Linked DNA regions of Homo sapiens. The protein of the gene in region 1 interacts with the protein of each later gene in a pairwise test. Each region holds a gene or a part of one and is shown in the gene's direction. Other genes may lie near its edges.

What was found.
Region 2: the proteins of TPRX1 (region 1) and NELFB interact in binary tests that used the Homo sapiens proteins (3 or more experiments, as listed by UniProt).
Region 3: the proteins of TPRX1 (region 1) and OIP5 interact in binary tests that used the Homo sapiens proteins (3 or more experiments, as listed by UniProt).
Region 4: the proteins of TPRX1 (region 1) and ATXN1 interact in binary tests that used the Homo sapiens proteins (3 or more experiments, as listed by UniProt).

Annotation. Positions count from the first base shown.
Region 1 is NC_000019.10:47,801,542-47,809,149, reverse strand, and holds the start of TPRX1 (tetra-peptide repeat homeobox protein 1), read left to right. Parts: upstream 1-4,598; 5' UTR 4,599-4,610; coding exon 4,611-4,635; intron 4,636-5,476; coding exon 5,477-5,646; intron 5,647-6,169; coding exon 6,170-7,375; 3' UTR 7,376-7,608. UniProt on the Homo sapiens protein: Transcription factor expressed after fertilization required for zygotic genome activation (ZGA), a critical event in early embryonic development during which the developmental control passes from maternally provided mRNAs to the expression of the zygotic genome after fertilization.
Region 2 is NC_000009.12:137,265,304-137,272,326, forward strand, and holds part of NELFB (negative elongation factor B), read left to right. Parts: intron 1-573; coding exon 574-676; intron 677-1,027; coding exon 1,028-1,123; intron 1,124-1,640; coding exon 1,641-1,783; intron 1,784-1,936; coding exon 1,937-2,043; intron 2,044-6,777; coding exon 6,778-6,919; intron 6,920-7,023. UniProt on the Homo sapiens protein: Essential component of the NELF complex, a complex that negatively regulates the elongation of transcription by RNA polymerase II.
Region 3 is NC_000015.10:41,322,571-41,329,593, reverse strand, and holds part of OIP5 (protein Mis18-beta), read left to right. Parts: intron 1-7,023. UniProt on the Homo sapiens protein: Required for recruitment of CENPA to centromeres and normal chromosome segregation during mitosis.
Region 4 is NC_000006.12:16,758,442-16,765,402, reverse strand, and holds the start of ATXN1 (ataxin-1), read left to right. Parts: upstream 1-3,942; 5' UTR 3,943-4,105; intron 4,106-4,236; exon of another isoform or gene 4,237-4,265; intron 4,266-5,218; exon of another isoform or gene 5,219-5,346; intron 5,347-6,961. UniProt on the Homo sapiens protein: Chromatin-binding factor that repress Notch signaling in the absence of Notch intracellular domain by acting as a CBF1 corepressor. Binds to the HEY promoter and might assist, along with NCOR2, RBPJ-mediated repression. Binds RNA in vitro.

The DNA of each region.
Region 1 (7,608 bases):
TTAGTACATTATTACTCAGCACCTTTGAGCTTTTCCTATTACAGACATGGGGATTTGGGAGGGAAAAAAAAGCCCAACAAAGTCTCTGTGTTCAAGACACATTTATTTCAGCAAACAGCAAGCAGACATCCACCAGGCAAACAAAACAACAAATACATTAAAGATCATCATTTCTTACTAATTGGTTACCACTTCATCCCTTTCTTAAACTTTCATTAGCATTCCATAGTCTGAGGCTGCCACAAATTAATCATCTTCTAATTTGTGGGCGTGAATTAATCCAATTAACTCAGTTGATATTTCAAAGAAATGTTACACTGAACACTGATATCTGCGCTTATTCACAGCGGAGCAAGTATTTTCCCAGGATAAGTCTCTTACAATAAAACATTGAGGCCAGGCACGGTGGCTCACACCTGTAATCCCAGCATTTTGGGAGGCCAAGGTGCGCGGATCACTTGAGGTCAGGAGTTCAAGACCAGCCTGGCCAACATGGTGAAACCCCATCTCTACTAAAAATAAAATAAAAATTAAATAAAAATTTAAAAATTAGCCAGATGTGGTGGCAGGCGCCTGTAGTCCCAGCTACTCGGAAGGCAGGAGAATCACTTGAACCCAGGAGGCAGAGGTTGCAGTGAGCCGATATCTGCATTAAAGTGCAGAGCCACTGCACTTTAGTCTGGGTGACAGATCGAGACTCGGTCTCAATAAATAAATAAATAAAATAAGAAAATTGGCCAGGCATGGTGGCTCACACCTGTAATCCCAGAACTTTGGGAGGCTGAGGCGGGTGGATCACCTGAGGTCAGGAGTTCAAGACCAGCCTGGACAACACAGTGAAACCCCGTCTCTACTAAAAATACAAAAATTAGCCAGACATCATGGTGGGTGCCTGTAATCCCAGCTACTCAGGAGGCTGAGGCAGGAGAATTGCTTGAACCTGGGAGGCGGAGGTTGCAGTGAGCTGAGATCGCGCCATTGCACTCCAGCCTGGGCAAGAAGAGTGAAATTCCATCTCAAAACAAATAAAGAAAATAAAATAAAATAAGAAAATTACCCGGACATGGTGGTACTTGCCTGTAGTCCCACCTACTCAGGAGGCTGAGGTTGCAGGATCGCTTAAACCCCAGAGTTCGAGGTTGCAGTGAGTTTCGATTGACTCCACTGCACTCCAATCTGGGCAACAGAGCAAGACCCTGTCTCAAAAAAAATCATTGAGTCAAAGGGTACTATACACATTTCATCCTTTAATAGATGTCACAGAGTCAATTTCAAAAAAAAACCTCCAAAAATATTTTACCAACCTACACTTCATCAATGGCAAGAGAAAACCACATTCTCTGGGTCTACACTTGATCCATCTCTTTGATCTTGGCCAATCCACAGGGCAATATGCTGAGTTTTGCATTAATTTATATTTTTTATTGATATGTCATCCACGTAATATAAAAGTACCCACTTAAAGTATACAATTCAGGGCTGGGTGCCATGGTTCATGCCTGTAATCCCAGCACTTTGAGAAGCTAAGGAGAGCGAATTACTTGAGGCCAGGAGTTCGAGACTAGCCTGGCTAACATGGTGAAACCCCATCTCTACTAAAAATAGAAAAAATTTTTTACTGGGTGTGGTAACACACACCTGTAATCCCAGCTACTCAGGAGGCTGAGGCATGAGAATCACTTGAACCCAGGAGGCAGAGCTGAGATCAATCCACTGCACTGCAGCCTGGGCAACAGAGACTCTGTCTCAAAACAAATACATAAATAAATTTAATTAAATAAAGTATACAATTCAGGCCGGGCACGCTGGTTCACGCCTGTAATATCAGTACTTTGGGAGGCAAGGTGGGCTGGTTGTTTAAACTCAGGAGTTCGAGACGAGACTGGGCAACACGGCAAAACAAAAAGAAAAGAATAATCATAAAGTACAAAATGAAATGGTTTTGGCCGGGCGCGGTGTTTCACACCTGTAATCCCAGCACTTTGGGAGGCCGAGATGGGTGGATCACTTGAGGTCAGGCATTCGAGGCCAGCCTGGCCAACATGGTGAAACCCATTCTCTACTAAAAATACAAAAAGTTAGCTGGGCGTGGTGGTGCATGCCTGTAATCCCAGCTACTTGGGCGACTGAGGCAGGAGTATCACTTGAACCCGGGAGATGGAGGTTGCAGCAAGCCGAGATCACACCACTACTGCACTCCAGCCTGGGTGACAGGGCAAGACGCCATCTCAAAAAAAAAAAATTAAATCGTCTTTAGTCTGTTTGCAGAGTTGTGCCTCCTTCACTACAGTCAATTTTAGAACATTTTTCACCGTCCCCAATAGCTATCTCCATAGCTATTCCCAGTTGGTCCCAATTTTCCCTTCTCCCCAACCCGTAGCAACCACTAATCTGCTTTCTGTCTCTATGGATTTGCCTATTCTGGACACTTTGTATAAATAGAATCGTATATGTGCTTTTGAGTCTGGCGTCTTTCACTCGGCATCATGTTGGCAAGGTTCATCCATGTTGTAGCACGTATCAGAGCTTTATTCCTTTTCATGGTTGAGTAATATCCCATTGTGTAAATATATGACATTTTGGGTTTCTATTTTTTGTGGGTTTTTTTGGGGGATGTTGTTTTGTTTTTTGAGGCAGAGTCTCCCTCTGTCACCCAGGCTGGAGTTCAGTGGCACCATCTCAGCTCCCTGCAACCTCTGCCTCCCGGGTTCAAGTGATTCTCCTACCTCAGCCTAACAAGTAGCTGGGATTACAGGCTCCCGCCACCATGCTTGGCTAATTTTTTGTATTTTTAGTAGAGACGGATTTTCACCATGTCGACCAAGCTGGCCTCAAACTCCTGACCTCAAGTGATTCGTCCACCTCAGCCTCCCAAAGTGCTGGGATTACAGGCGTGAGCCACCGTGCCCAGCCACTTTTATTTATTTTGAGATGGAGTCTCACTCTGTTGCCCAGGCTGGAGTACAGTGGCACAATCTCCACTCCCTGTAGCCTCCGCCTCCCGGGTTCAACCAATTCCCCCGCCTCAGCCTCCCAAGTAGCTGAAATTCAGGTGCTGGCCACCACGCCCAGCTAATTTTTGTATTTTTAGTAGACAGGGTTTCGCCATGTTGGCCAGGCTGGTCTTAAACTCCTGACCTCAGGTGATCTGCCTGCCTCAGCCTCCCAAAGTGCTGGGATTACAGGCGTGAGCCACCGCGCCTGGCCATGCAGCATTTTATTTATCCATGCATCAGTGGATCGATGTTTTCAGCATTTTCTCCTTTTGGGCGATAGTGAATCATGCTGCCGTGAACTTGCTTATATTTAAATGTCTATTTTCACAAAATAGTACCAGTGAGCTTGTTCATCTGTTTATGTCTTTATTGACCAAATAAATAGCCATGGTGCAAAATCTCTGTGGTCACTACTGTGTTCCCAGCATGTCCTGTAGATGAAGCCGGACAATGTGTGCGATGAGGAATCATTGCTGGGGATGCTGCTTTCTACAGCAGAACTCTAAGTAGCAGGTGAAAACAATGAGCGAGGCCCGTGGTAACAATGTCTACGTTTTATTGAATTTTGAAATTGATTGCATGAGTCATTTCTAGTTCCCTGCACCATGAGCCTTGTCAATCTCTCTAATCCCTGAACCCACGTGGGTCCTGCCATGGGGAAATGAGGACAGCCAGGTGTCTGACAGAGAAGACGCATCTCTGAGGGATCCGATCTCTGTAGACCAAGGTCATGGGTCCCCTGTATCATCAGCAGTAGGTTCATTCACTCACAAGGGCAGACCAGCAGCGGTCCATGGGCACGTCCATCAGACCTGTGCCCCCTCCTGATACAGGTCTATGCAGCTTGGAGAGGCTGGGCTCATGTGAACCCAGCACACGAGCCCCGTATATAAACTGGAATAAACCAGCACTGAGGTCATTTACTCTCCAGGAGAAACCAACAGAGGTCTATGTGAATGCCTATCAGAACTTCACCCCATAGGCAAATCCACTACAGAAACCAAACCATTATCAGCAGGGCCAATGTGTACTAAGCTCTGCTTACACCTATAGGCACCTAGGGAGCAATTTTTGGAATGGATAGTAGGGGCCAGAGTGGCCTTGAGGTACCAAAGAGGAGGTTGCAAGGTCATCCAGGAAGGAGGGATAGTGGCTGGACAAGGCAGGCAGCCCAGGAGCCAGGAGGAGTGGGTAGACTCACCGGCATTGGTCACTCGGGGCCCCAGCCCTGGGAAGGAACAAGGATGACTCCTGGGGGCTGGCTGGCGGTGCCTCTCCTGAGATGGGGACCCCAACCACAGGTCACGATGTTGACTCCCCCAACCAAACCCGCATGGAATGCCACCTCACCTGGGCTAGGGCCCATGAGGGTGAAACCAAGGCTGTGTTGTCCACTGAGGTTCTCCAGCTCCTAGCACAGCTCAGCAGGCAGTACCTGATCAGTGATGAAGGATTAATCCATCATTCAACTCCTCCAGGGGGCGGGACTGCAGGGCAGGGTGGGAAAGGGAGGGTCCCGGCAGGGTGGGCCAGGGTGGGCACAGCAGAGAAGTGATTTAAGAGCCAAGCCCTTGTCAGTACACACTTGTGTTTGGGAACAGATCAGGACTCAGGATGCAAGACCCTGGTCATCTCCAAGGTGAGCGGGGACAGAGGTGTGAGGGGTCTGGGCTGATCCTGTGGCTGAGGCTGCAGAGTGCAAATCTGGGCAGCCAGAGAAGGGCTGGGCCTGTGCGGGCGGCTTCCTGTCCTGCAGACGGGGGAGAACTTAGTGGTGTCTGGGAAATGAAAAATCATGCAGCTGGGTGTAGCGTCTCACGCCTGTGATCCCAGCTCTTTGGGAAGCCAAGGTGGGAGGATCACTTGAGCCCGGGACTCTGAAACCAGCCGAGCCAACATAGTGGAGACCCGTCTTTAGCAAAAATACAAAAATTACCCAGGGGTCGTGGTGCACACCTGTGGTCCCAGCTACTCGGGAGACTAAGGCGGGGGGTTCCTTGAGCCCAGGAAGTGGAGGCTGACTTGAGCCGTGATCACATCACTGCACTCCAGCCTGGGTGACAGAGCGAGATCCCCTCCAAGAAAAAGAAAGAAGGAAAGAAATTAAACCATGCAGTTGAGTGGAGCAGAGGACTGGGCAGGTGGCGGCTCCCCTGCAAGTGTCAGGGTCCCTATAACCCTTGGATGGGAGGGGACGGGGCAGCTGGGGAGGGTTGAGCAGGCCTGAGGCAGCCCCGTCTGCTCCGAGGTGAGGCGCCTACGCTGCCTGCCTTCCCAGGAGCTGTTATCGCGCCTATTTCCTAGATGTGGACCCTGAGGCCCAGAGAGGTGCAAGGTCTGGTCTGGATACCAGGCTGCTATCCGCGGTGCCGCCCCAGCCCACACTGCCTGGGCTCCTGGCCTGGTGCAGGGGACGGGGTCCCTAGGGGGGCTGGGGGCTGCCTGGGGGTTTCTGTGACCTGTTTCCCTCCCACCCCCAGGCCCTCCCCTGGCCCTGGACCCTCCAAGGAGACAGCGGCAGGAGCGCACGGTCTACACTGAAAGCCAGCAGAAAGTGCTAGAATTTTACTTTCAGAAGGACCAGTACCCGAACTACGACCAGCGACTGAATCTGGCGGAGATGCTCAGCCTCAGGGAGCAACAGCTGCAGGTCTGACCCCCACCCCCACCCTGCCCGCCCCAGTCACCCCAAGGAGCCTCCCCACCGCTGTCACTCACCGGGGCCTGGCCCGCCCGACCACCTCCCGCCCTGCCACGCAAGGGGTCCCGCCAGTGTAGACCAGGGCTGCATCCTGAGTCCTGTTCCAACTCTATGCTAGCCCAAACTCGCCCACATGATCGGCCCAGGCTGTCCCCCACGGGGTCTCCCGGTGCCCGGACCTCAGGCACCCGTGAGAACCCGCGGTCCCTCCCCTCGAACCCTCCCTGGCCCCCCGGGCACCTGGGCGGCAGACCCCGCTCCTCCCATCCCACCCCACCCTCCTCCCCCTACTTTTCCCTCCCTCTTCCCTCCATTCTCCAGGCCTTGGAGCCGGGGCCCTCTTTTGGTGGGGTGGGGGATGGGGGGCTGTTGAGCACAGGGAGAGGCTTCAGGCTGGCCCCGACCCCAAAAGGCTCACTGGGCCGCGCGAGCCCCTCCTTCACACCTTCTCCCTGTCCCCTCTGCCCCCCAGGTGTGGTTCAAGAATCGCCGCGCCAAACTAGCTCGGGAGCGGCGGCTCCAGCAGCAGCCCCAGCGCGTCCCTGGGCAGAGAGGCCGAGGAGCCCGCGCTGCGCCCCTAGTCCCTGCAGCCTCTGCCTCCGCACCTCAGCGGGGCCCCTCGGGAATCCTTCCAGCGGCGGAACCCACGATCTGCAGCCTCCACCAGGCCTGGGGTGGCCCTGGGTGCAGAGCCCAGAAGGGCATCCCAGCTGCCCTGAGTCCAGGCCCTGGCCCGATCCCTGCCCCAATCCCAGGCCCAGCCCAGATCCCAGGCCCACTCCCTGGCTCAATTCCAGGCCCAATTCCAGGCCCAGCTCAGATCCCAAGCCCGATCCCAGCCCCAATCCCAGGCCCAATTTCAGGCCCAGTCCAGATCCCAGGCCCATTCCGTGGCCCAATCCCAGGCCCAATTTCAGGCCCAGCCCCGATCCCAGGCCCAATCTCAGGCCCATTCTCAGGCCCAAACCCAGGCCCGATCCCAGGCCCAAACCCAGGCCCGATCCCAGGCCCAATCTCAGGCCCGATCCCAGGCCCAATCTCAGTCCCGATCCCAGGCCCGATCCCAGGCCCAATCTCAGGCCCAATCTCAGGCCCAAACCCAGGCCCGATCCCAGGCCCAATCCCAGGCCCAATCTCAGGCCCGAACCCAGGCCCGATCCCAGGCCCAATCTCAGGCCCGAACCCAGGCCTGATCCCAGGCCCAATCCCAGGCCCAATCTCAGGCCCAGGCCCAATTATAGGCCCGATTCCCAGCCCAGCCCAGATCCCAGGCCCAGGCAGACTCCAAGGCCCAGGTCCCATCTTAAGTCCTGGCCGGATGCGAAGCCCTGGCTCACTTCCAGGCCTAGCCCCGATTTTAGGCCCAGGCTCAGGCCCAGGCTCAGGCTCAGTCCCAGCTCCAATCCCAGGCCCAGGATCACTCCCAGCCCCAGCCCCCTTATGGCCTCAGAGCCCCGATGCCTCCGACTTCTTGCCAGACACCCAGTTATTCCCTCACTTCACAGAGCTGCTCCTACCCCTAGACCCCTTGGAGGGATCCTCAGTCTCCACCATGACCTCTCAGTACCAAGAAGGGGATGACTCTATGGGCAAAAAACACTCAGGGTCTCAGCCCCAAGAGGAGGGTGGCTCTGTGAATGAAAATCACTCAGGCCCCAGGTTATTACTGGATTTATAGGGGGCCTGTGCCTGCAAAGTTCTTCAGATCCCAGAGGGCCTGGAGTGGCTGATCTACACTGCTGGTGACTTTCTGCAGTGAATGCATCACCCTTTACCCACCCTGCTGCAGGTGGACATTTGCTGTCTTCACTGTGCAGCTATCACAGGTGGCTCTGCTGTGAATGTGCCTGCCTGTCATTTGAATTGAGCCTGAGCGTTTCTCTGCTGGGATTGGAGTCGCTGCTCACTGGG
Region 2 (7,023 bases), on another chromosome or scaffold:
CCCAGCCTTTTTTTTGTTTGTTTTTTTAACTTTTTAATTTGAAAAATCTTTGAATAGGTTAAGGACAAATTGCAAACCTTAAGCTTTTTTTTTTTTTTTTTTTGAGACAGAGTCTCGCTCTCTTGCCCAGGCTGGAGTGCAGTGACGCGATCCTGGCTCACTGCAAGCTCTGCCTCCCGGGTTCAAGTGATTCTCCTGCCTCAGCCTCCCGAGTAGCTGGGACCACAGGCGACCACCACCACGCCCGGCTAATTTTTTGTATTTTTGGTAGAGACAGGGTTTCACTTTGTTAGCCAGGCTGGTCTCAGTCTCCTGACCTGGTGATCCATCCGCCTCGGCCTGCCAAAGTGCTGGGATGACAGGCTGAGCCGCCGCGCCCGGCCTGCCAAAGTGCTGGGATGACAGGCTGAGCCGCCGCGCTCGGCCATCCTTAAGCTTTTTGTAAGAAACCCAGCATGTGATGGGCACCCGCTGCCAGTCCTGAATTCAGCCTAGGCCACCCCTCCTGAGGACTGTGCCGCTGAAGGGAGGGGCAACAGGCGTCGCATTAATGCCAGGGCGGCCTCCTTCCAGGGACCTGTCCATGATCCTGTGTGACCCCTTCGCCATCAACACGCTGGCACTGAGCACAGTCAGGCACCTGCAGGAGCTGGTCGGCCAGGAGACACTGCCCAGGGTGAGTGTGGGCTTGGCCAGCAGCTGTCGGGGCCATGCGGCCACTCCGCTGGCTGCTCTGGGTGGTCAGGGTGTGGACAGCAGCGGCCAGGTGGAGGCAGCTGTTGGGGCCCTGTGGCCGCCCTGCTGGCTGCTCTGGTGGTCGGGGATGTGGACTGCAGTGGCCCAGGTAGAGGCGTGTGCTTCCCCGCTGTGAGACTGCGTTTCACCCCGTGTGTGGGGCTGGTGATCGCAGTCGTGTGGTCCTGGCCATGGGCACCAGAGATCCTGCTGAGTAACGAGTAGGGTCAGAGGAGCTCCATGGCCAGGACACAGCTGCCTGGGAGAGGCGCTGAGCCCGTCCTCCCTACAGGACAGCCCCGACCTCCTGCTGCTGCTCCGGCTGCTGGCGCTGGGCCAGGGAGCCTGGGACATGATCGACAGCCAGGTCTTCAAGGAGCCCAAGATGGTAACGAGCCTCCTGTGGGGGCTGCCAGTTTCCTACGAGGGGTTGTGGGCTGGAAGTGGGGTGGAGGGGGAGGCGCTAGCAAGGTGATTGTGGAGGCCCCTTTGGTCCCAAAGCTTCCTTCCTGGAGCTGCCCACCTTCCTTTTGGGAAAATGCCCACCAGGGAGGTTCTGGGGTGTCTCCGTGGACCCTGGCTGGTTCTGGGGTATCTCCATGGCCCGTGGCTGGTTCTGGGGTGTCTCCGTGGACCGTGGCTTGTTCTGGGGGTGTCTCCATGGACCATGGCTGGCCACAGGTGGTGACTACTCCATGTGGGTCCAGACCTAGAAGGGGGTTTGAGGAGATGGCCTGGGTGGGGGACTCGGGAGGTGGGAAGAGGGACCTGGGGACCTGGAGAGGAGGGAGGGTCGGTGAGGTATCTGGGGGAGTGGGAGGGCCAGGGGCAGGGTGTGTGTCACGTCAGGGTGGGGTGGGGCAGGGCCCGGGCCCGCGCCCGCTCATGGCCTCCCCTCCTCGTAGGAGGTAGAGCTCATCACCAGGTTCCTCCCGATGCTCATGTCCTTCCTGGTGGATGACTACACTTTCAATGTGGATCAGAAACTTCCGGCTGAGGAGAAAGCCCCAGTCTCATATCCAAACACACTTCCCGAAAGCTTCACTAAGTACGGGCTGTAGGGCCATGGTGCAGGGGTGGCCGTGGCGCAGGGATGGCACTGTTGCCCAGGGGGCTGCCTCAGGGCTGGGCAGGGGTCGGTGTGGGGCTGAGGTGGGGCTGAGGTGGGGCTGAGGTGGGGCTGATGGCGCCCCGGGCGCAGGTTTCTGCAGGAGCAGCGCATGGCCTGCGAGGTGGGGCTGTACTACGTCCTGCACATCACCAAGCAGAGGAACAAGAACGCGCTCCTCCGCCTGCTGCCCGGGCTGGGTAAGTCCTGACGGGCGGTGCCTGGCTGTGTCTTCCCTGCGGCAGCTGCCGTATGCAGTCCTGCCCAGGGTGCGGGCCCCAGGGCCCCCAGGAGCTGCCTTGTCTCCCCAGCCCACCTCCAACTTTGCTAGCTTTGTTTTCACCTTTTTTTTTTTTTTTTTTTTGAGATGGAGTCTTGCTCTGTCGCCCAGGCTGGAGTGCAGTGGTGCAACCTCAGCTCACTGCAGCCTCTGCCTCCTAGGTTCAAGTGATTTCTCGTGCCTCACCCTCCTGAGTAGCTGGGATTACAGGCGCGTGCCACCGTGCCAGGCTAATTTTTGTATTTTTAGTAGAGACGGGGTTTCTCCATGTTGGTTGGGCTGGTCTCGAACTCCTGACTTCATGATCCGCCCGCCTCGGCCTCCCAAAGTGTTGGGATGACAGGTGTGAGCCACCACTCCCAGCCTCGTTTTCACTTTTACTTTTGTTTGTAGTTTATTTTACTAGGAAAGGGAGAGGGAGTTCAACTTTGTGCTTTCCCACAAAAAGGTGATGTAAGAGCTGTCTTTATTTCATCCTAACTGGCGAGGGGCTTGGGACCCCTCAGGTGCTCAGAGAATGGAGCAAAGGGGAGGGAGAGAGATCCCCTGCCCCAGTGCCCCACCCCAGGTGGTGACAGGCCCACTTCCTCCTGGGGGCCTTGACGGGGGAGGGGTTGTTGCAAGCCAGGAAGAAGAGGAAGGGTCCAAATGGGCACCTTCAAGAGTAGAGCTGCAGGTCCCCTGGGAGATGGGGCCTCTTTAGCCTGCTGTGGGTCCCATGGGAGATGGGGCCTCTTTAGCCTTGCGGTACCCACTGTGACACAGACCCTGGGCTCTTCCTTGCTGACTCAGGCCTTGTCTGGGGTTTGCTGTCTTAGTCCACGTTATGCTGCTCTAACAGAGACTTGAGACTGAGTAGTGTAGAAAGGGCAGGGACGGCCGGGCACGGTGGCTCAGGCCTGTAATCCCAGTGCTTTGGGAGGCTGAGGCGGGCGGATCACGAGGTCAGGAGTTCGAGACCAGTCTGGCCAACATGGTGAAACCCTGTCTCTACTAAAAAAATACAAAAATTGGTTGGGCATGGTGGTGGGTGCCTGTAATCTCAGCTACTTGGGAGGCTGAAGCAGGAGAATCCCTTGAACCTGGGAGGTGGAGGTTGCAGTGAGTGGAGATTGCACTATTGCACTCCAGCCCAGGCGACAGAGCGAGACTCCGTCTCAAAAAAACAAAGAGCAGGGACTTCTCCCAGTTCTGCGGGCTGGGATGGGAAGTCCGAGGTCAAGGGGCCTGCATCTGGCTGGGGCTTTTTGCTGTGTCATCCCATGGTGGAAGGCAGAGGGCAAGAGAGCACGGGCAGGGGAGACAGACAGACACAGACAGAGATGAGAGACAGAGACACACAGACCAAGATGAGAGACAAAGATGAGAGACACAGAGACAGAGATGAGACACAGAGAGATGAGAGACAGGTAAGAGAGACAGAGACAGGAGAGACATGGAGACAGACAGATGAGAGACACAGGACAGAGACAGATGAGAGACAGAGCTAGAGATGAGACACAGACAGACGGAGACAGAGAAGGGGCCACACTTACCCTTTTATCAGGAGCCACTCCTGTGCTAACAGCGAGAACGCTTTGGTGAGGACGGAGCCCTCACGACCTCAGCAGTGTTGCGTTGGGGATCAGGTTTCCGATGGTGAACTTGGGGACACGTCCACACCACAGCACGTGCCTATTGTGTTTCTCGGTGGCTGGTGTGTTTGAGGATGGCGCGTGCATGCGTTTTCCAGCTTTCTTTGTGGAGGAAGTTACCTGTGGGTATTAACCTGTCCCCAGCCATCCTCTCACTGAGCTTGGGTTGCCTGGGCCTGGGTTTCCTGTTGTTGCTGGAACGAATGACCACAGACAGTGGCATTAGACAGCGCAGGCAGACATGACCTCCTGGGCTTCTGCGGGTGCCAACACTGCCGCTCCTTCTGGAGGCTCAGGGAGGCTCTTGAGGGCATTGGGACATCGTGCTGCCGGCCGCCGGGCAGAGCCGGTTTGTTTATTTTTTGAGACTTCCGGGAACATAGTTATAAATAACTTTAATTTGCCTTGGCCTGCCCACTGCAGTACAGTCACGTGTCACATAACATTCTGTCTACCGTGGACCACATATACGACCACGCGGTCACATAAGCTGACAATACTGTATTTTTACTCCACTTTCTCTATTTAGATACACAGTTGCCATTGTGTCCCAGCAGCCTTCAGTACTCAGTACAGCCATGTGCTGTGCAGGTGTCTAGCTCAGGGGCATGAGGCCATGGCCCAGCCCAGTGTGCAGTGGGTGGCACCTTCTGGATTTGTGTCAGTCACTGTGGAGTTCGCACAATGACAGACTCACCTGGGAGGCCTTCCGTGCGCTTCTGTTTCTTTCTCTCATTTGATTGTGGCTAGAAACAGGCTGGGAACCAGGAGTGCAGCTTCTCGGAGTACGTGGCTGCCCCACGGGGTGGGATGTGCATTTTCAGTCACATTTGGGGAGAGCACGCGTGTTCTTAAGTTTTTAGCGGGTTCTAGTAAGAATGGATGTTGATTTTTAGAATTCTCTCCTGTTTATTTTTTAACATTTTGTGGTGGGAATTTGTGAAAGAATACGAAGTCAAGAGCATGGTACGGTGAGGACCCAGCACCATCTCCAACCTCCCCGGGGTCCACGTGGGGTCTGCGTGTGGCCGCCTGTCCCTCAGCACGATGTCTGGGTGTAAATCTGAGACATCACAGCATGCAGGCTGCAGACGTAGGCATCTCTACAAAAGAAGGATGCGTTTACAGGAGAATCGCTTGAACCTGGGAGGCAGAGGTTGCAGTGAATCGAGATCACGGCACTGCCCTCCAGCCTGGGCGACAAAGCCAGACTCCGTCTCAAAAAAAAAAAAAAAAAAAAGGGCGGGGAGCCGGGCTTGGTGGCTCATGCCTGTAATCCTAGCACTTTGGGAGGCCAAGGCGGGTGGATCACCTGAGGTCAGGAGTTCCAGACCAGCCTGGCCAACATGGTGGAATCCCATCTCTATTAAAAATACAGAAATTAGCCGCGTGTGTGACGCATGCCTGTAGTCCCAGCTACTCGGGAGGGTGAGGCAGGAGAATCGCTTGAACCCAGGAGGCAGAGGTTGCAGTGAGCCGAGATTGCACCACTGCACTCCAGCCTGGGTGACAGAGCGAGACTCCGTCTCAAAAAAAACAAATAAAAAATAAGACTGTCTTTAAATGCCTTTAAAAAACTGGCCAGGCATGGTGGCTCACCTTGTAATCCCAGCGCTTTGGGAGGCCGAGGCGGGCGGATCACCTGAGGTCAGGAGTTCCAGACCAGCCTGGCCAATGTGGCGAAACCCCATCTCTACTAAAAATAGAAAAATTAGCCCGGCGCGGTGGCGCACGCGTGTAATCCCAGCTGAGGGAGGCTGAGGCAGAAGGATCGCTTGAACCCGGGAGGTGGAGGTTGCAGTGAGCTGAGATTGCACCGCTGCACTCCAGCCTGGCTAACAGAGTGAGACTCTTCTCAAAAAAAATAAAAACCAGTGACCACGGACCACGGGCCACTGTCACATCTGAGCCAGGTTCACTGCCGCTCCTCTGCCGACTGACTGCCTGACAGTGGCTGCGCTTCTCCAGGTGTCTCCTGCCTGCTGTGTGGACGGTCCCGTCAGGGTTGGGATGCGCCTGCTGTCCCCTCTCCTGTCTCGCAGTCTTGGGTTCCCCGGAGTTGCAGGAATCAGGGCATTTGCCCAGTGGGGCCTTGCTGCTGGATCCCCTGGTCGGGACTGTGTGCCTGCCACGTGTCCCGTGGCCACCTGGCCATGTGGCCGGCCAAGGCCCTGTGAGATGTGGCAGGCAGGCACCTCGGGGGCCTGGGTCTCCTGGAAATGTTTCTGTCACTCTGGGCGCAGGTGGCGCCAGCTGGGTTGTCCTCATAAAGGCCCCATCCGGGATACTAGGAAGGCCATCCTCAACCTGTCCGCACACGTCACCTCCATGTGGCCTGGCCACAGCTCCTTCAGGCATCAGTCTGCAGGCGGCCGCCCTCCCTCCCTGCAGGGGCCCCGTTTGGGGCGTTGTGCTGGCTCTTGGCAAATGTCTGCCAACACCGTGGCTTCTGTGCTGTGGTCGCACGTGAGGCGTCTGTGGGCACGAATGCTGTCTTTGTTGTGTTTTGGTGTCTGGCTTCAGAAAAGAATGTGGAAGAGTTTCGTTCTCTTTCCTGTGGTTCAGTGTAGCTGGCAGTCAGGGAGAACTCTCTGCAGCTGGCGCCGGCCCTGTATTTGTTAGGCTTGTTTCTCCTGGGCTCGGCTGCTGGGCAAGGCCTTTTGGGACTGGAGGAGCACCTCGTTTTTCTGTCTCCTTCTTCCTCCACCCTCCTCCTGTCCCCGGGCTGTCTCCCCCTCCCTCCACCCTCCTCCTGTCCCTGGGCTGTCTCCCCCTCCCTCCACCCTCCTGTCCCTGGGCTGCAGCTCTGCTTCCCTGCCACAGGTCCCACCCCCTGCCTGCCTCTGTCCACTTCCCACCCCCCTCTTCACCTGCTGAGACCCTGTGCTTCTCATCTCAGAACAACTGAGAACTCTCATGTGAGCACCCCCAGAAGTAGGTTCTGAGGTCTTTGAGGACAAGGGTGCCCTCTGGGGTGGGCAGGGTGAGTGGCACTGGGCTGATGCCTGCTGTGTCTGCAGTGGAGACCTTTGGCGACTTGGCCTTTGGCGACATCTTCCTCCACCTGCTCACGGGCAACCTTGCGCTGCTGGCCGACGAATTTGCCCTTGAGGACTTCTGCAGCAGCCTCTTCGATGGCTTCTTCCTCACCGCCTCTCCAAGGTAGGCCTGCTGGGTACCATCCGGCCCGCTCTGTCCTCTCAGCTCTTGTCCGTAGCAGCCTGAGAGGTGGCTGCTGTCCCCAGCCTGGGGCGGAGGGTCCGCAG
Region 3 (7,023 bases), on another chromosome or scaffold:
ACCTATAATCCCAGCACTTTGGGAGGCCAAGGCAGGCAGATCACAAGGTCGGGAGTTCGGGACCAGCCTGGCCAGTATGGTGAAACCACGTCTCTACTAAAAGTACAAAAATTAGGGGGGCGAGGTGGCAAGCGCCTATAGTCCCAGCTACTTGGGAGGCTGAGGCAGGAGAATGGCTTGAACCTGGGAAGCAGAGGTTGCAGTGAGCCAAGATCGCACCACTACACTCCAGCCTGGACGACAGATCGAGACTCCGTCTGAAAAAAAAAAAAAAAAAAAACTAGAGGGAAAGCCCCATGTGTTTCTGTATTTGTGGAGTAAGATGAGCTATATGGGACTTACGAAGAGGGTTATGAAATGGCACAGCTCAAGACAACTTGATTTTTTTCTAAGTGTAGGTTCATTACCTAGATGGGGTCAGAGAATGAATTAAGAGGATGATTAATGATGCAGCTAAAAGAGCATAAATTTTAGAGACAGCAGACTCGGGTTCTTTTTATTCTTTTTTTTTTTTTTTTTTTTTTTTTTTTGAGATGGAGTCTTGCTCTGACCCAGGCTGGAGCACAGTGGCGGGATCTTGGCTCGCTGCAACCTCCGCCTCCCGGGTTCAAGCTATTCTCCTACCTCAGCCTCCCGAGTAGCTGGGATTCCAGGCGCACGCCACTATGCCTGGCTAATTTTTGTATTTTTATATTTTTAGTAGAGACGGGGTTTCACCATGTTGGCCATGCTGGTCTCGAACTTCTGACCTTGTGATCCACCTGCCTCAGCCTCCCAAAGTGCTGGGATTACAGGTGTGAGCCACCGCACCAGGCCTTAACTTTACTCTTAATGAGGCATGTGAAATAAATTGATCCCTCTCAATCTGTCATATTTGAATACTCCTAAAATATACTCCCTCCGACATTTATTTAAACATTCTACAATTGGCATGAACCTCTTAGATTCAAAGTCATAAAGTAGACAGATACAAGGTTACTTCCGTCTACATTTTATTGTTCTCTTACTGGTAGAGGATTTATTGTAACTAATTTTAAAAAGGATTATTATAGTATGTTGACACTTAGAAATAGCTTTTTTACCCTGAGCTTTTGTTGTGCTCAACAGCATATTTAAATGGAATTTTGTTTGTATTATAAGTGAAGTACATTTTTTTCTAATTGTTATGGCAAATTCAAACCCGAGAGAAGAATATAATGAACCTCTGTCTACCTGTCACTAAACTAGAGCACTTATCAACTCTTGGCCAATCTTGTTTCATCTAAAATCATAGTTGGCTTATCATGCTGGCTCACGCCTGTAATCCCAACACTTTTGGAGGCCAAGGTGGGAGGATCACTTGAACCCAGGAGTTCAAGACCATCATGAGCAACATAGCGAGACTTCATCTCTAAAACAAAACAAAATATCTATCCTCCACAATGTTTTGAAGCAGATACCTGAAATTACATCATTCCATCCATAAATATTTTGGTAAGGATCTTTATAAGAAACTTTTTTCTATTTATTTATTTTTTGAGATGGAGTCTGGCTCTTTTACCCAGGATGGAGAACAACCTCCGCCTCCCAGGCTCAAGCCATCCTTTCACCTCAGCCTCCCAAGTAGCTAGGACTATAAGGCATGCACCACCATGCCCAGCTAATTTGTTGTAGAGATAGGGTTTCAACATGTTGCCCAGGCTGGTTTTGAACTCCTGAACTCAAGTGATCTGCCCACCTTTGCTTCCCAAAGTGCTGGCATTACAAGCATGAGCCACTGCACTCAGCCTTTCTTTTCAATTATTTTATTTTATTTTTTATTTTTTTGAGATGGAGTCTTGCTCTGTAGCCCAGGCTGAAGTGCAGTGGCAGGATCTTGGCTCACTGCAAACTCCGCCTCCCGGGTTCAAGTGATTCCCCTGCCTCAGCCTCCCGAGTAACTGGGACTACAGGTGCATGCCACCACATCTGGCTAATTTTATGTATTTTAGTAGAGACGGGGTTTCACCATGTTGGCCAGGATGGTCTTAATCTCCTGACTTCGTGATCCTCCCACCTCAGCCTCCCAAAGTGTTGGGATTACAGGCGTGAGCCACTGCGCCCAGCCTCTTTTCTTTTTAAAGATATATCCCAATTCTGGCTGGGTACAGTGACTCACGCCTGTAATCCCAGCACTTTGGGAGGCCGAGGCGGGAGGATCACGAGGTCAGGAGTTCAACACCAGCCTGGATGACATAGCGAAACCCCATCTCTACTAATACAAAAATTTGCTGGGCGTGGTGGTGGGCGCCTGTAATCCCTGCTACTGGGGAGGCTGAGGCAGGAGAATCGCTTGAACCCAGGAGGCGGAGGTTGCAGTGAGCCGAGATCACACCATTGCACTCCAACCTGGGTGACAAGAGGAAGACTCCATCTCAGAAAAAAAAAAAATTTAAACATACCACAAACACTATAATAAGCCCCAGGTACCCAGTTTCAACAGTTATTAATATTTTGACAATTATTTTCCTCTATACTCTTCACTTTTTTTTTTTTTTAATTCCTGGAGTATTTTGAAACAAATCACATACAGTAAATCAACTCTTCATCACTTTGGTATTACTTCCTGTTGTCTTGTAGATTCACAGACTGTTATAACCAAAAAAATAACATAATCTAGTTGACCTCATTCTACTGATAAGGATATGGAGAAACAGTTGTATTTGGTAGTGTATTGGAAGTATTTTCCTCCTATAATATTCTCCAGTGCCCATGATCCAATGTAATGATGGAAGGCCCAGCAAGCTAGGTGATGCTAACCCTTAGTGGCAGAGCAAGGCAACCCAAAGCAGCTCAGCACGGATGGTTAGAGACGTAGTACCTACTGTGGTAAGATTGTTAAAAACATGGGGCCGGGCACGGTGGCTCACACCTGTAATGCCGGCACTTTGGAAGGCCTAGGTGTGCAGATCACCTGAGGTCAGGAGTTCGAGACCAGCCTGGCCAACACGGGGAAACCCCGTGTCTAGTAAAAGACAAAATTAGCCAAGCGTGGTGGTGCACGCCTGTAATCCCAGCTACTCACTTGGGAGGCCGAGTCAGGAGAATCACTTGAACCTAGGAGACGGAGGTTGTGGTAAGCCAAGATCACGCCATTGCACTCCAGCCTGGGGAATGAGCGAAACTCCATCTCAAAAAATCACAAACAAAAAACAATAAGGAGCCACAGACTATACACATGATCAGAGGCAAAGTGTGGGAATGAAGTTCTTTTTTTCTTCTACAGTGGTCAACTTAGGATAAATTTTTTTAAATCATAAACCATGGTTTAGCCACTGAGGCACCGCTATATCATTAATCTCACTATCTGAACTTATTGCAATTTTCTTTTCCTTGTTTTATAGTAATATTCAATAAAATATACTGTGTTTTACTGCACTTGCAGATACTGCTTTTTTGTTTGTTTGTTTTTTTGAGATGGAGTCACACTCTGTCACCTAGGCTAGAGTCCAGTGGCATTATCTCGGCTCACTGAAACCTCTGCCCCCTGGCTTCAAGCAATTCTTCTGCCTTAGCCTCCCTAGTAGCTGGGATGACAGGTGTGCCCTACCACACCCAGCTAACTTTTGTATTTTCAGTAGAGACAGGGTTTTGCCATGTTGGCCATGCTGGTCCTGAACTCCTGACCTCAAGTGATCTGCCCACCTTGGCCTTCCAGAGTGCTGGGATTACAGGTGTGAGCCACTATGCCCAGCCCAGGTAATGCAATTTTTTTTTTTTTTTTTTGAGACGGAGTCTTGCTCTGTTGCCCAGACAGAAGTGCAGTGGCATGATCTTGGCTCACTGCAACCTCCACATCCCGGGTTCAAGCAACTCTCCTGCCTCAGCCTCCCTAGTAGCTGGGATTACAGGTGCGTGCCACCACGCCCAGCTAATTTTTGTATTTTTATTAGAGATGGGTTTCGCCGTGTTTGCCAGGCTGGTCCTGAACTCCTGACCTCAAATGATCCACCTGCCTTGGCTTCCCATAGTGCTGGGATTACGGGTGTGAGCCACTGCGCCCAGCCCAGGGACTGCATTTTTTTTTTTTTTTAACAAATTGAAGGTTTGTGACAAGCTTTTGTTGAGCAAGTCTGTTGACACCATTTCTAACAGCATGTGCTCACTTTGTGTCTCTGTGTCACATGTTGGTAATTCTGGCAGTTTTTATTTTTATTATTTATTTATTTTGAGACGGAGGCTCGCTCTGTCACCCAGGCTGGAGTGCAGTGGCGTGATCTAGGCTCACTGCAAGCTCAGCCTCCTGGGTTCACACCATTCTCCTGCCTCAGCCTCCCGAGTAGCTGGGACTTACAGGGGCCCGCCACCACACCCGGCTAATTTTTTTGTAGTTTTAGTAGAGATGGGGTTTTACCATGTTAGCCAGGATGGTCTTGATCTCCTGACCTCATGACCTGCCTCCCTCGGCCTCCCAGAGTGCTGGGATTACAGCCACTGCGCCCGGCCAATTCTGGCAGTTTTTAAAACCTTTTCATCATTATGTCTGTTAACACTGATCTGTGATCAGTGATCTTTGCTGTTACTATTGTAATTGTGGGATGCCACAAACCGCACCCATTGAAGATAGCAAACTTAATCAATACATGCCTGTGTTTTGACTTCCACCAACTAGCCATTCAGTCTTGCCTTCTCAGGCCAATTAATAACCCAACAATGGCCTTTAAGTGTTCAAGTGAAAGAAAAAGTTGCAAGTCTCTCATTTTAAATCAAAAGCTAGAAATGATTAAGCTTAGTGAGGAAGGCATGTGAAGTCATGCCAAATTGTGAATATGAAGAAAAAAAATGGGGTTAGGCGCGGTGGCTCACGCTTGTAATCCCAGCACTTTTGGGAGACTGAGGCGGGTGGATCACATGAGGTCAGGAATTCAAGACCAGCCTGACCAACATGGTGAAACCCCATCTCTACTAAAAATACAAAATTAGCCGGGCATGGTGGCGCACACCTGTAATTCCAGCTCTTTGGGAGGCTGAGGCAGGAGAATTGCTTGAACCCGGGAGGCGGAGGTTGCAGTGCACCAAGAACACACCATTGCACTCCACCTTGGGCAACAAGAGCGAAACTCCATCAAACAAACAAACAAATAAATAAATGGAAATTAAAAGTGCTATTCCAGTGATAAGCTGATATGGAGAAAGTTTGAGTGGTATGAGTAGAAGATCAAATCAGCCACAACATTCCTTTAAACTAAAGCCTAATCCAGAACAAGGCCCTAACTCTGTTCAATTCTGTGAAGGCTGAGAGGTGAGGAAGCTGCAGAAGAAGTTTAGAGTATCAAATGTTGGCTCGGTGCAATGGCTCACGCCTGTAATCCCAGCACTTTGGGAGGCCGAGGTGGGTGGACTGGTTGAACCCAGGAGTTTGAGACCAACCTGGGCAACATGGTGAAATGCTGTCTCTACAAAATACAAAAAAATTTAGCCGGATGTGGTGGCGCACACCTATAGTCCCAGCTGCTTGGGAGGCTGAGAAGGAAGGCTGGCTTGAGCCCAGAGAGGTCGAGGCTGCAATGGAGCTGTGATTGTGCCACCACACTCCAGCCTGGGTGGGTGACAGAGCAAGACCATCTTAAAAAAAAAAAAAAAAAAAAAAGCAGAGGTTGGTTCATGAGATTTAAGGAAAGAAACCTTCTCCATAACAAAAGTCCAAAGTGAAACAGCAAGTACTGATGCAGAAGCTACAGAAAATGAAAGTGGGTACACTAAAGAACATATTTTCAGTGCAGATGAAACAGCCTTCTGTTGGAAGAAGATACCATCTCAGACTTTCATAGGTAGAAAGGAGAAGTCATTACCTGGCTTCAAAGGAGCTGGTCACAGTGACTCACATGTGTAATCCCAGCACTTTGGGAGACCAAAGTGGGAGGATTGCTTGAGCACAGGAGTTCAAGACCAGCCTGGGCAACATAGCAAGAACCTGTCTCTACGAAAAATTTAAAAATTAGATGGGCATTTTAGTGTGTACCTGTGGTCCCAGCTACTTGGAAGGCTGAGGTGGGAGGATCACTTGAGTCTGGGATGTCAAGGCTGTAGTGAGCTGTGATTGTACCACTGCACTCCATCCAAAAGAAAAAGAAAAAAAAGCTTCAAAGGACAGGCTTTCTTGTTAGGGGCTATTGCAGCTGGTGACTTTAAGTTGAAGTCAATGCTCATTTACTATTACTATCTATAGCTACTATAGATAGTTATTCCTCTGATGGATCTGGGCAAAGTAAATCAAAAACCTTCTGGAAACCCAGCTAAATTTTGTATTTTTAGTAGAGACGGAGTTTCACCATGTTGACCAGGCTGTTCTCAAACTCCTGATCTCAAGTGATCTGCCTGCCTCCCAAAATGCTGGGATTACAAGCGTGAGCCATTGCGCCCGAATGGAAATTAAATTAATTTCCACTGAGACATTTGTTTATAAGTACTGTGCTTTGTCTGAATTAATTAATTCCTACGTGGAATTTCAAATTAATGACACTTTATTTCATATTTTGCTTTTTGGTTAACTATATTCACAAGATTACATTACTATATGTGTGGTGTGGGTGTGGGACTTCATTTACCAATAAACTCAATATATTGTTATTTGTTCTTTTTTAGTATCCACTGACATGAATATTTCTTTTTAGCTATGTGATTTTTTTTTTTCTTTTTTAAGATGGAGTTTCGCTCTTGTTGCCCAGGCTGGAGTGCAGTGGCACAATCTCCGCTCACTGCAACCTCCGCCTCCCAGGTTCAAGCGATTCTCCTGCCTCACCCTCCTAAGTAGCTGGGATTACAGGCACCCGCCACCAGGCCTGGCTAATTTTTTTATTTTTAGTAGAGACAGGGTTTCGCCACGTTGGCCAGGCTGGTCTCGAACTCCTGACCTCAGGTGATCCACCCGCCTTGGCCTCCCAAAGTGCTGGGATTACAGGCGTGAGCCATCATGCCCGGGCTAGCTATGTGATTTTTATGTTGTATTTTGTTAATAGAATTCTCCTAGCCTGGGAAACAAAGTAAGACCCCATTTCTGCCAAA
Region 4 (6,961 bases), on another chromosome or scaffold:
GCTTCAAGGGAGTTTTTGAGGATGCAATATGGAAGAGTAGTGAAAAGTATGAAATACTACGTAGGTATAACTGAAACCTAAATCCTCACCACTGCAAGCATTAAGGAGAAACCCCTAAAATTATTCTGAGTGTAAACACAGCAAAAGGCGCATGGACCTTAACCAACATGTATGACACCAAATGAAATTAAGTTACCTGATGTAGGGTCCAGTGAACTGACTCTGTTTTTAGATAAACAGGAGCTACTATTAGGGTTGCCTGATTCTGTGTTATCTTTGTTTTTGAGTAAAGCTAAGGCATCTTAGGGTTGCCTGATTCTGTGTTGTGTTATCTTTGTTTTTGAGCAAAGCTAAGGCATCTTTTTCACTTTTGAGGTCCACTTTCTTTTAAGAATTCAAGCCTAAAACTCTAAAGAAGTTTATCTTTATTTTATTCAACTTTCAATCTGTTCAGTTACATAGTTGTTATGACCTGGTAAGCCTATCTGTGTTTGCTCAGTTGATTTGCTTCATTTTGAACTACATAACAGGCTACTTCCAATGAAAACATATACTACAATGTAAAATCTGTCATGATTTGGAGAGACCTGTGCACTGGTTTTATTAAGCACTCTTGTGCTCCCTCTGCTGCCATGAAGAAAATGTTCATGTTCAAGACCCCAGTACATTCCTCAGCAGAGCATTCTTTTTTGGCAATAATGATGCAGATGTGTGCACTTACAGTGCAGTAGTATTTATCCAAAGCATATAACATAATAATTTTTCATTGAAAAGCACAAATTAATAAGGGCTGTACTTACTAAAAAGGAGCAAAAAAGAAATAAATAGAGGAATTAACTTCTGCACTTGTGCCCAAATTTATTTAGGTTGATCCCTGTGGTATAGACCAGTGTTCTTCACATGATAATGTGTTTAGAAATCACCCAGGGGCCTGGTTCAAAGGCAGATTCTGATTTGGTATGTCTGGGGTAGAACCCTTGACTCTGAATGTCTAAAAAGCTCCCAAGTGCTGCTGTGGCGACTTTGAAAACTACACTTTAAGTAAGGGTGTAATATGTAATTATATAATATATACTTGCTGGCCCATTTAACACCTTCAAGAGTAGATACCACCAAAACAGTAAAATAGATATGTGATTACAATTATTTTTCATGGTATTTAAGCAATCTATGACACAGGATACGAGTCAAGCTCATCAGGCCTTATTTATCGATTTCCTGTAATTTCAAAGGTTGACTTATGCTTTTACAAACATAACACCAGCCTTATGAGTAGGACTATAGTACTATATATTTGTCTACTAGCTTCTTGGAAGCTCTGCCCTTTTTCATTGAGTTTTTATTTGCACGAGAAAGTCTTGTTTCTAAAGAATCAGTGCCTGTTATTTGTGATTGTACACTTAATATTTTGCCATCTGAAAACAAAATATTTCAGTACTAAAGGTAATGAGACAGTTTCATGAGTATGGTGTTTATGTTGGATCTTGCAGGAAGAAATAGTTACAGATTTTGGTGGCAGTTTATGGCTTTAAACTTAATGGCTAAGAAAGTAAATGACACATTTCTTATTAATTGTTTTTACCATTTGGGTAATATACATATTTAGCTTCCTTGAGAGAACATTTAAATTAATTGACTAACTGTAATCTGAATTATGTGTTTTAATTTAAGGTTGTTAAAATCACGTAAATTAACTGCTTGTGCCAACGTAAAATTACAATATTAGCTTTTTTTTAACTGAAAATTATCTAAATGTAAGATGTCTAAAAATAGAGTGGAGGTGGATTGGACAGTTTGCAGATTATGAGTTGGAATAAAAACATCGCAGTTAAGCCAAAAACATGGCAACCAATATTTTCTGTTATAAAAATATTTGAGATGAATTTAGTTTTTATGAAAGCTGTCTGAAACTGAAATGAATAGCAGAAGCTTTCTGTTTATTCACAGTCCAGTAATAATAATACCTGCAGCACAAAGCATACGTCTTTTCTATATAAAGCCAACAAGCTTCTGCTCCTTTCTGAAGTCGTCTTTGCCAAGCAGGGTGTTGGGGGCGGGGGTGAGGATAGGGGTGAGGGGACATTTTACCCGGTTATGCTCTTACGTACTAACCTTCACCTTGACAAAGCTTGTCAACGAAAACAAAACCAGTCAGAGCCTTTTCAGGAAACTGATGTTAACTGTCCACTAGAGGCTGTAATGAGACCAACAATGTCACTTTAGACCAACCCGAGGTTTAAACCGTAACAATAATCGATTTTTAAATGGAAAAAAAAAAGTTGTAGAAATGAGTAAGAGTGAACACTAGTAGTTATACTTAAATAGCCACATATATGTGCATGGTATTTCAAAAATGTGAGAAAAAAATATTTCCGGGGCTCTGCACCTTCCTCGCTCGTATGTTTATTTTTATTTATGAAGCACGTAGGCTCTTGCAGGCCAGAGTTGTGTAAAAACTGACACTTTTTTTTTGGTCATCCTGTGCCCTGCCTCAGTTGGTGACTAACCGTTAGGTCATAAGTAAACTCAGCCAAAAGATCTCTCAAATACAGCTTACAGTCAAGATTGGTGGCTTTCAGAAAGAAACTTACGCGAAAGGATCATGTTTCCAGACACTTAGTTCTAAGCACCTGAAGAAGGTCAAATGTCGCCCGACACCTACCGGCCTTCCAGAATCATCTGCAACAAGAACGCCGCACTGAGCGCCCTTAGTCTGGAGGCGCCTCCTAGTCCTCCAGGTGCCACACCTGTTGGCAAGGTGCACCCATCCGAAGAAGATTCCTTCGCGTGGAGGTCACACCTGGCGGCGAGACAGGCGGAGGGGCGGGGTGGTGGGAGTCGGAGACCGCACTGAAACCCTGAGTCCAGATTTAAGTTCCTCGTCGATTCTCGAGAACTGCCATTTGATGCTCCGGTTGCTTTCTCTGTCTCCTACACTGGTTACCTCATTTCCGATTAAATTAATGATCCGAAATTAGCTGCGAGAGGAGTGCGCGGGTCTCCTTTCCAGGCTAGAGCGGAGTAGTTCCATATCAAAGCCGATTTCCGGACCTGCGTGCGAAGAGAGAAAGAGGGCAGGGTCGGGCGGTCGCCAGCGTTCGCCGGCAGGAAAGGTGAGGGTACCTGTGCAGTCGGGGGACCCCTTGAAACTTTCCGGAGTTGCACGCAGAGGCAATCCCCGCGGCCCCCAGGCCTGGGTTCCGGAACGCCGAAGCGACGCCGGTTTGTGGCTTAACGTGCAGCTGATGATCAGAGTGAGCCCTCTCAGATGCTGCTCCGAGCGCCTGGGACCAAGGACACGTCGGGATTAGAATGGGCCGACCTCCCCTCCCCGCTGGGGTGTTGCATCGGCTCCCAGCTGAAGCCTGACAGCCCTTGGGGGAGTCCCCCAGGTTGCCTGAGTAGCGCCCCGTTGTCGTTCAGTCCCCTCCAACTAGGTGCAGGGACCCAGGGAGGCGCGCGAGGACCGACCCGTCACCGCTCAAATTACCTCATCGCCCAGCTCCCCGCCCCCTTCCCAAACCTGGAAGGAACCTTGCCCTCCGGTCCGCGTCTCCCCTCCCCCGCACCCCATCCCGAGCCACTCTTTGGGAAAGGTGCCCGCCTCCCCGGGCGGCGCGCAGCGAAGGGTTAAGGGCGCGGGCCGGCCGCCGCGCGGTGCGCTCGCCGTGCTCTGTGCGGCTCGCCGGGCCGCCCGCCAGAGGGTGCCCCCCACCCCCATGAAGTCGGATCCTTGAGCTGCGGCGGCGGCAGCCAACTGCTCCATATTTGGCTTCTATTACACATTTACATACTGGAGCGAGCGAGCGAGCGAGCGCGAGAGAGCGCGAGGGAGGGAGGGAGGGCGGGCGGGCGGAGGGAGGAGGGAGGGGAGGGGAGCGGGAGGAGGGGGAGGAGGAGGAGGAGGAGGAGGAGGAGAGAGCAGAGTATACCGCAGACATCATTTCTACTACAGTGGCGGAGCCGTACAGGACCTGTTTCACTGCAGGGGGATCCAAAACAAGCCCCGTGGAGCAGCAGCCAGAGCAACAGCAGCCGCAAGACATTGTTTCTCTCCCTCTGCCCCCCCTTCCCCACGCAACCCCAGATCCATTTACACTTTACAGTAAGTGACTATTTTTTTTTCCTCCTCCGATTCTTTCCCCCCTCCCCCATTCCCTTCTCCCCTTATTTAGATTAAAATCCCTCCTCCCCCGATCTCCCGAGAGGGGCAAAAGCAACAACCAGCAAACAAACCCAAAACCCCAATCGGCTGCACGGAAAACAGCTGGAAGAGGAGCGAAGGAAATCGACGCGTCGTGTTCTGTGTGTGTGCGTGTGTGTGTGTGTGTGTGTGTATGTGTGTACATACAACCGTCCCCGGCTCCAGGCTCCCGGGCCGACACCCCCACTCTGGGCGCAGGGGCGGCCGGCGGGGGGGCTGTCAGGGGCTGGGTGGGCGCCCGCCGGGCTAGGGGGCGCGCCCGGGCGGGGGGCGCGGGCGGGGAGAGCGGCGGCGGCGCCCCGCTCCCCCGGCTGCTGGTCCGGTCGCAAGTGCGGAGAGCCATGTCCTCCTCCCTCCGGGTGGCGCAGGGGGGAGGCGGCGGCTGGGGTTGGGGGGTGGTCCCTTTCCCGGCCGCCCTCTTCCCATTCCTCCTCCCCGGAGAGGGCGGTGAGAGAGAGGGGGTCTCACGGAGGGCTGGACTTCTCCGCGGGTGGTCGCCCGGCCTCGGCGCCCTGGGGCGGGGGTCTCCCCTCGGAGGGCCGGCCTCGCCGGGTGTGCGGCTGCGGGCGGGGAAGGGACTGCTCCTGCAGCCGGGACGGGACTTTGCGCGCGGCCGGGTGCCGGGCGGGGGGCGCAGAGGGGTGGCCTCGGGGACCGCGCGGGGGTAGCGGGTGTGCGGGTGCCTGGAGCGCGGCTGGAGTGGCGGTGACGGCCCTGGCCGCCGCCGCCACCGCCGCCCTGTTGGTGCGGCCGCTTCCTGATCATGTGCAGCGGCAGCCGCCGCCCGGAGCCGGGAGCCCGCGAGCGCCCCAGTCCGGGCCGGCGCCCCCGCCAGCACCCGCGGCAGGAGACGAGGAGCCGCGGCAGGCGCTGCCCTGAGCCGGGAGTGAACGGCTGCGCGGCTGCTGGGAGGGTGAATGAAGCCAGGAGGAGGGGAAGGAGGAGGAGGCGGCGGCCGCCGCGGAGGAGGCGCTGCGGGGATTGGGATGCGCCCTGGAGCCCCACTGCTCGTTCACTCTGGGCCGGGCCGGAGACTCTGCCACTCCCGGGGGCGCCGCCGCCTCCTCCTACGTGGTTCCAGTGCTGCGCGCAGGCCGGTCCCGCAGGGGGCAGGGAAGGGGGCCGGACGGGCGGAGCGAGAGGTGAGGCGGTGTCGGAGCGCGGCGTGAGTGTGAGTGAGTGTGTGAGTGACTGTGTGTGTGTATTTGTGCGCGCGCGCGCCGGGCGGGGGGCGAGGGCCGTCGCGACGCGGAGGGGGCCCTTCCTTGGCTACTTGGCTGACTCTGCAGCGCCCCGACCCCTCTTCAGCCCCCCGCCTTCAGGCTGCCTTCTTAAACTCCGTGGCTTGTGCTTTCATTTTGTTTCAGACCACGTAGGGGGCTGACTGAAAGGGATGAAACAATTCAGGTTTTCTAGGGAGATTGAGCAAGAACCTTAGTGGGGGTGGAAGTAGGGTGGTGATCGAGACTCTGCCAGAAAACAAAACAAAACAAAAAAAAATCCGTTTCTAAGGACGGCGGGGATTCGGTTCGAGCCCGTGGCTGCTCTGTTTTGTTTTGCTTTCTTGGTATATAATCCTACAGATAAAAGGGTAATATAAATATTTGAGAAGAGGGAAATTGCTGAAGAGTAGTAAGGGCAAAAAAAAAAAAAAAAAAAAAAAAAAAACAGTCGGAAGAAGCTGGTTATATAATGCGCGATGTGGCTAACAAGAAAGGCAAGCTATTTTTATTTTGTTTACCGTATGCTGTGCAGTAGGGACTCCTCCAAACTGGTTCTGTCCCCGAAGAGATTCTTAGCTTCCCTGCGAGATCCACAGGATACAATTAGCAAAATTAGAAGACCCTATTACACCCACAGAATAAAAACTAATGCCTTACAGTGGCTTTCTCCCTGCACATCCTGTCGTGCATGCACGGGAATGTGTGTATGCAAATAAGTTCTCCTTTGGCAATCTAGTAGTCACATCTCAATGACATTTGTGTTTTATAATGCAGGCTGTTTTTAATATTTAAACATCATTGTTATATATTGCACACAGCAGTGGGTAGTTACTTGGTTATTTTTAGGCACAGCTAGTTACTTTTTCAACAGTGTTAGCTGAGACATTTCTGTTTGGGTTTTTTAGGAGGCTGCAGTTCCTAGAAGCCCCCCTTAAGCCCACCCTTCGGTTTATTTGATGGGTAAAGGTAGTTTGATACTTGAGCTTTTTTTGGAGTGAAGCTTATGTCTGAGGAAACCACCAGAGAGAAGAGAAAATCCTGCACAGGAACTCTTGGAAAGGGATTGCACCATAACGGCTAGCGCTGTGGCATTTAATCTCCTCTGATTGCCCTCTCACTGTGCATGCATCAGTCAATATTTTAGCAGCTCCGCAAATAAATGGACTTGAATGCCATCTTCTACATAAAGCAGAGGTTGAAGGGCTCCCCTGAACCTCCTGGCTGCCTGTCAGTGGTGTAGGTTTTCGGTGCACTTACTCCAGTCCTGATCACTCATGTAATTAGATCAGGCTGCCATGGCAACAGACAGTGTTCCTCGTCCATTCAGGTGGGTTTGTCTTGTGCCTGAACTACTCCAAGTGTTTTATGCACAGCATTTATGCTGCCCAAGCCAGACGAGAGACTCCACTATTTCAATTGCATCTTCTTTCAGTCATTTGGATGGGAGACACTGAATGAGGCTTCTAGCTACTCAACTTTTATAAAGGAGACCAACAAGCTGTTCTTCCTAGGTGCAGTATGTAAATGCATCTCC